2 separate regions of the Homo sapiens genome follow, and region 1 is reported to be linked to region 2. The links are microRNA targets in miRTarBase. Many come from high-throughput screens and were not tested one by one. Region 2 holds a microRNA gene; the other region holds the end of a gene's coding sequence.

What was found. The annotated mature microRNA hsa-miR-7110-3p reads UCUCUCUCCCACUUCCCUGCAG and lies in region 2 at 2,145-2,166, shown strand. An mRNA with a match to its seed (bases 2 to 7 or 8) in the 3' UTR can be bound and repressed. Matches are read on the target gene's strand: a 7mer-m8 pairs with bases 2 to 8, a 7mer-A1 pairs with bases 2 to 7 and ends in A, and an 8mer does both.
Region 1: the mRNA of IQCE is a reported target of hsa-miR-7110-3p. Seed matches in the 3' UTR shown: 7mer-m8 at 1,314-1,320.

The regions. Positions count from the first base shown.
Region 1 is chr7:2,609,910-2,612,909 of GRCh38, reverse strand. IQCE (IQ motif containing E) reads right to left here. Exons shown (of 22, transcript NM_152558.5): 22 at 1-2,866. The coding sequence ends at 2,748. Among named protein-coding and RNA genes, the nearest start is that of TTYH3, 21 kb to the left of the region's middle. RefSeq lists enhancers at 1,690-2,263, 2,264-2,837.
Region 2 is chr3:123,159,714-123,163,549 of GRCh38, forward strand. MIR7110 (microRNA 7110) reads left to right here and starts at 2,081; the gene lies at 2,081-2,166. It overlaps PDIA5 (protein disulfide isomerase family A member 5), which reads left to right. Exons shown (of 17, transcript NM_006810.4): 16 at 1,608-1,742; 17 at 2,167-2,391. The coding sequence ends at 2,247.

The DNA of each region.
Region 1 (3,000 bases), not on the chromosome of region 2:
CACTCTCTACTTCGTCTCCCCCGGGAGTTGTCTACTTTCCTAGGCCCTGCCAGCAGCCCCCACAGCTCCGCCCAGCCCACTCCACCAGCTTGCTGCTCCCATGGCTCAGCCCCACTCACAGCTCACCCCTCCCATGGCTAGGCCCCATCCACAGCTCACCCCTCCCATGACTAGGCCCCGCCCACAGCTCACCTCTCCCGTGACTAGGCCCCGCCCACAGCTCACCTTTCCCATGGCTAGGCCCTGTCCACAGCTCACCCCACCCATAGCTAGCCCCATTCACAGCTCACCTCTCCCATGGCTAGGCCCCACCCACAGCTCGCCCCGCCCACAGCTCACCCCTCCCATGACTAGGCCCCGCCCACAGCTCACCCCTCCCATGGCTCCATGGGCTTCTCTTCCCCTCCTGCCTAAGTCCCCGCAGGGCCAGAACCCCTGGCCCCCAGGCCCTGGGGCCGTGGGCAAGGAGGCCTCTCCGCTTGGTACTGTCTCCATGGAACAAAACCACACTGCAGCGTTCCAGGACCACAGAACAGCCAGGCAGGCTGTACCCAGCAAAGGGGACTGGTGACCAGCACTGGACACTGGGCATCAGCTGAAGACACTGGCTTGAGAATGCATTGCCATTTACCCAGCGAGCTTCAAGATGGATGCTGGCTTTTAAAAGAGCAGCCCAGCTGCACCAGAGGACATGGCGGTTTATGTATGGAACATTGGCCTCCAAGCCTGAGGCAGGAAAGCCCTCTCCATGCCTGTAACCCAAAGCTCTAGGCCACTGGTTCCCAAGAGTGAGCACGTCCCGCAGAAACAGCTTGGTTTAACAAGTGGGAGCAGCTGCCACAAGAGAACGGAGGGTCTCCCCCAGCGAATGTGCAGGTGTCTCACTTTCTCAGGGCTTTCGAGGTGGACTGGCTCCTAGGACCTGAAGCTTTGAGCTGGCAAGCAGGGATGGCTTGGGACAGCGCCCCAGGGAGTGGACCCGGGCGGGTGGGGTGAAGGCAGGGGTCTAAAGAGGGCCTGTGTCAGTTACACAGTCCATCAAGTTACCAGCCAGTTCAGTGGAAAAAAAAATGGACTTGGCAACCCACAGACCAAATAAGGAAAACACGTACACAAGCCAGGCCCCCCGCTGACTCGCTTCCACCCACTGCAGAAACAGAAGCTAAGTGGAGACAGGGGCCAGGCTTCGAACCGCAGGGTGGGGCGGGTCCTGCACTTTGGGTGGCCCCATCCCTGAGTGACTGGGAGAGAACAGGCTGGGCTGGGGACACCTGTGTCCTCCTCCCATAGAGCAGGTGGACATGCAGAGCCTCCTCTCTCCCTTTCACAAGCCACTGTGTTGGGGCCATCGGCCTTCTGACCGCCACAGAGAATGACCCAGGCTCAGCTTAGGTGACTCAGAAGGCCGCCATGCTGCAGAAAAGGCGCCCAGGGGTTAAGCCTGTCCCCGTGGACGGAAGCCTTGGGAGAAGCTGTCAGCTGTGTAAAAAGGGGCTTTCTAACCATTGGGTCTCTCCTGAGACAGCGGCCAGCCCCGGCAGGAGTCCCCACAGGGGTGCTGTGGAAATGCAGACACCAGGCCTGGGCTGTGCAGGGGTCTAGATGCCCCTGAAGGCCCGCCCAGGTCTAAGGCTCTTCCTCTTGACGCCCCAGCAAGGGCTAATCTCACACACAAGCAAGAGATGGGCACTGGACACTGTGCGCTTCCCCCAGGAACTCCCTCCTAGGCCTCTGCAGCTGCTGGCTCCACAGGCTCCGCACGCCCGGCCCAGCCCAGCCCAGCCCAGCCCAGCCCAGCCATGGAGCTTGGGAGTGCAGAGGCCGCACACATGGGGTGACGGGGACTGTCCCAGACACCAGATGCAACACGCCCCACCACGAGCCTATGCTGTCCCTTGGAACGGCGAGCCTGCCTCCTCACCCTCCTCTCCTCCTCTTCCCCGGGTGGCCCCACACAGGCTAAGGCTCCCGCCACCAGCTTGGGAACAGACATCACCCTGCTGTTCTCAGAAGCAAGTGTGATGCTGCTTTTGTAATTGGGAATTTTAAAAAATCTTGGTCTCCACAGTGACAGAATCCAACCAAATTCCTTCCTGGGAAGGGCAGCTCTGGAGGGCAGTGCTCCAGGGGATAGCAAGGGTGACGGGAAAGGACGGTGTGAGCGGGTGGGGCATGGAGTAAGATCATTTGGGGACCTGGGTGTCTTTAGCTCCTCACTGGCTTGGGACAGGCCGTGTTTTGCTGTGGGGATGGGGGAAGCCGGTCTCACACCTTCCTAAGGCACAGCGGGGTGTGTCTGCCTGGCCTGCTGGGCTGAGATCGAGCAAATCCTGGTTGTTGAGGGTGTCACCAGGAAGAGGGGGCATGGTGTCGGCGCTGGTTGCGGATAGCAGCTCCTCACGGTCAAGGTCGTGGGCAGGCGGCAAGGTGCTGTCAGAGAACGTGTCACTACAGGGCTCCCTGGCATCTGCGAGTTCACGGCAGATGTGTCTGTTGGCACTGAAAATCCACCATCCGAGCTGCAGCTGGAGATGAGGGGGATGCGAGCCGCTGGCCCTCCCCAGAGAATAAAGTAAAGGCATTTGGGTCTCCTTCCACAAACAAAAGCACAAAGAGACACGACGCAGATGCTGAGGTGTTAAGTAGGTATCATCGTTCTTCTCCTAACACGATAAATTATCTTTCCAGTCGTGGTTCCTATGTCCTCGGCAGCGCTGCCATCACGGCGTGGAGACAGTGACGGGGACCTAAACTGGAAAGTTCTTCGTGGGCAGAGACGGTGCAATGACAATATCGTCGGAATCATCGGAGTTGACGTCATCCCCAGGTAGAGGTGCCAAGGCCTGTGGCCCTGAGGGAGAGGGGTCTGCAGAAATGAACCACAGGGAGAGGGGTCAGCCACGCTGACCTCAGGGGCTGCCACCACGGACACCCTTACACTGTCTGCTCTTCCCCGGCAGGCAAGACGGCAGCCACCCCGAGAAGCAGTAAGCCATGGGG
Region 2 (3,836 bases):
ATTTTAAAAGTCTCACCGTATAGAATGTTACATAGCTGAAGAGTAGAAGGGAAGCGTGAGGGTGAGGGGGGTGAAGGTGGCACCTGGTGGCCAGGGGAGGCCGCACCTCACTCTTCTCTTCAGCTATCCATCTGGCAGCTCACCTGGGCATGAGGGACATGATGAGTAAACGTGGCCATGGGGGCCCACAGGATTCTCCTACCTGGAAAGGGGCTTTGTCCAAATGCAAATAACCATCAACCAAAGAACTGTGTGAATCATGGTTATTCAATAATTTTAAATTATCTTATTGAATCACCCTCTTTTAATTTCTTCCAAGCATTCATTGAGCTCTATCTAAAATGATCTAATTTGTCATACAGCAGACGCTTGATAACTGGACTTTGTCAAGGTCGACGTTGTCCCCCAGCATCTAGAACAGGCTTGGCACACGGCAGGGTTTCAGTGTGTGTTGCCTGGTAGGAGGACTCATTCTCATGGGAATCTGCCCCATCTTCCATAACACCTCTGTACTGGGTATGGCCATTGAGGACCCCTTCTCGGGCTTCCCTGGTGCATGACCCTCAACCGGAAACAAGTTCCCCATTTCTGCTTTATACTGTCTTCCTTTGAAAAAACAACAAATGATGAGGAAAAGCTACCCAGCATGTGGAATTTGCTAGATGGTCAAGAAGAGGCCAGTGGCCAATGTGGGAACCACTTTCTGACCAAACATTCTGATGGCTTTACTCATGCGGGGCTCCTCCAGTTTCCAGATGTGCTTCCCTGGTCTCCTCCTCTTCCAGTCTTGGCTCAGATGGCGAATCATACAGAGCGCCTTTGCCCCACTCACCTGGCACCTGGACCACCTCCCTCATCCCTCACATCACATCATGTTGGAATTGTCCCTTTATCCAACCCCTGCCCAGACACTGAGCCCCTAAGTGGGGACAGAGCTTGTATATGGGGTTGGAAGAAGTGACTGTAATAGCAGCTGACATTTCCTGACCATGAATCTGGTGCCAGGTTCTGTGCTCACTGGCCTCACTGGAATTCTCTTATTCAGTCTTCACAATATCCTGATAGCCTAGATACTATTATTATCCCCATTTTACAGCTGAAAAAAATGAGGCACCAAGAGGCTGAGTTATTTTCCTTAAGTCTTACTGTCCAGGCAAACCAAGAGTGCACTTGGGGAACTTGACTTGAAAGCTCTTGCCCTTAACCTTGGCACTATACTGTCCCCCCAAGCTAATGTTCCGGAAATATTAGTGGAGAAATGATTAAATCCTACAGTCCCTTACAGATAGCACCACAGAACCTGTGGTGTTTACAAATGCTTTCAAGTCATCATTTCCTTTACGATCATCATACTCTTGATTTTAAAGGACAGTCTAAAGGCACTCCAGGCCGAGTCCCCTAACCTTACCCATCTGGAAATTGAAAACAAGCACCATCAGTCTCCAAGGAGTCCTGAGCTGGGGGTGCTTTGGTTCAGTTCCTACCTGCCACTGAGGAGAAAAATCAGAGTGGGCCTGTGACGTGGACTAGATGTGCAATCTGTGTTGTGGGGTCCAGGCCTCAGCCTGGGGACACCCTGTGCCAACTCTCTTTACCTTGGCTCCTAGATTGCCTGTGCCGCTGTTGACTGTGTCAAAGACAAGAACCAAGACCTGTGCCAGCAGGAGGCGGTCAAGGGCTACCCCACTTTCCACTACTACCACTATGGGAAGTTCGCAGAAAAGTATGACAGCGACCGCACAGTAAGTGGGGGAGAGGCGTCTGCCCAGAGCTCTCTCTCTGCTGATGGGCAGGGAAACTTCCACTGAGGAGGGGCAGCACTGGGCAGCATCCCAGAAACTGCAGAAGTCAGCTGGAACACTGCACCGAGAGGCCCAGGCCCTGGGCCTGGCTGAGGCTTGACATTGTTGGAGGAGAGTCCCAAGGGGTTGCCACAGATGTCCTGTCCCCAGAGGCAGGCTGGACTCCAGATGCCGAGGGTTTTCTCACTTGCTGGTCGGGGCTGGTGCAAGCCACGCAGACCCTCTCCACCTTGCAGAAGTCTGCCCACCTCTCCCTGTCATAGGAGTGACCCCCTGGAGGGGCTGGGGGTGTGGGGAGAGAGAGTGCACAGCCAGCTCAGGGATTAAAGCTCTTTCTCTCTCTCTCTCTCCCACTTCCCTGCAGGAATTGGGATTTACCAATTATATTCGAGCCCTCCGGGAGGGAGACCATGAAAGACTAGGGAAAAAGAAGGAAGAGTTATAATTCCTGCCTCAGAAAAAGCTTTTCCATTACACTGTGAATGATACCTGTTTTGTTGTTTCTGAATTTCCACATGTTCTGAAGACAAATTTTTTATAGCCGCTTATGGCCATTTTGTACAATTTTGAAATAAAATTAAACCATTTATTTGGTGGTATGGTTTATTTTCGTGGAGCCTGTACTAAAAAAGGTGGATACTCACATCCTCCTCATTCCACCACCTCTGCTGGGAGGTACAGAGCAGTGCTCCAGTGCCCCATCTGCATGGAGGTGACTCCTGAGGGTGTCGGCCCCCTGTCAGTCATTTGAGAGCAGAACAGGGAAACTGGACCGCAGAATATCCTGCTGGAAAATGACAAGCTAATGAGAGGAAATACGTCAAGATGATCAATGACTTTGGGAGGCTGAGGTGGGAGGATCACTTGAAGCCAGGTGTTCAAGACCAGCCTGGGAAACATTATGAGACCTCATGTCTACAGAAAATAAAGTTGCTGGGCATAGGGGTACATGCCTATAGTCCCAGCTACTTGTAAGGCTGGGAAGGGAAGATTTCTTGAGCCCAGGAGTTCAAGGCTGCAATGATCTATGATCGCATGACTACTCCAGCCTAGCTAGAAAGCAAGACCTGTCTCAAAAATAGAAAAAGAAAAAGAAAGAAAAAAACAAAAGATGATCAGGGAAATTGGGATGCTGAAGCAAATGGTAACCAAACACTAGCTTCTTCTGGATCATTGCGGTTTCAGCATTGGTGTGTTTCCTCTGTGTGTGTTTTCCTGGAACTTACTTAGGTATTTATCTTTCTCCAGCTATTTGTCTTCTCTTCGTCTCTCCATTCCCTCCCCAATCTCCCTTTAAAGAAAATTAAGTTGCCGCTTCAGGGGCATGAATGGAGTGGGGGAAGGGGGGCTCTGTGCCAGCTGCTTGCTGTGCACCCTGGCTGGAAGGGATGGTGTGTTCTCGAGGTGCAGATATTAGATCTGCTCACCAGCCCCCACCACCAACCATAATAACCCCAAATCTTTACGCCACGTTTTCCATGGATGGGTGCCTTGCTCGGCCTCCTGCCTGTGTACATCTCCTTTTTGACCCACCTTTCTGGTGAGTCCTCCTGCTTTCTGCATTCCTGCGTGACTGACACCCCAGCCCTGTGCCCAGCGGTGCAGGCAGAGCCTGAGCACAGCAGTAACATGTTTTGTCTGCTTGGTGGTATTTCTCCATGGACAGCAGAGTGGCCTTGTGCTAGTATCTTGTCTTTAGTTATAAGTAGCGGTCCTAGAGTTGGATTCCTCCAGTAGTTCAGGGGGGCGTTGCTTAAGCTGCAGTACTTGGAAGCACGCTCTGGTGGCCTTGATGGGGACTTGGCCTGCAGGAACAGCCCTCCTTTCCTGGACCCAGCTCCCTTCCTCCTGGCCTAAGTCCTTCCTGCTGATGAATCTGCTGAGAGGAGGACAGAGCCTCCAAGTTCTTCACAGCTGTTTTGACGATGGTGCCACTGTGGGTGGTTTCATTAAGGGAAATCAAGGTTTTGAGAGCCCTTGTTCTGTGCAGTTCTCCAACTTTCCAATTGACCCTCCTGCCAGTTCAGCTCTTCT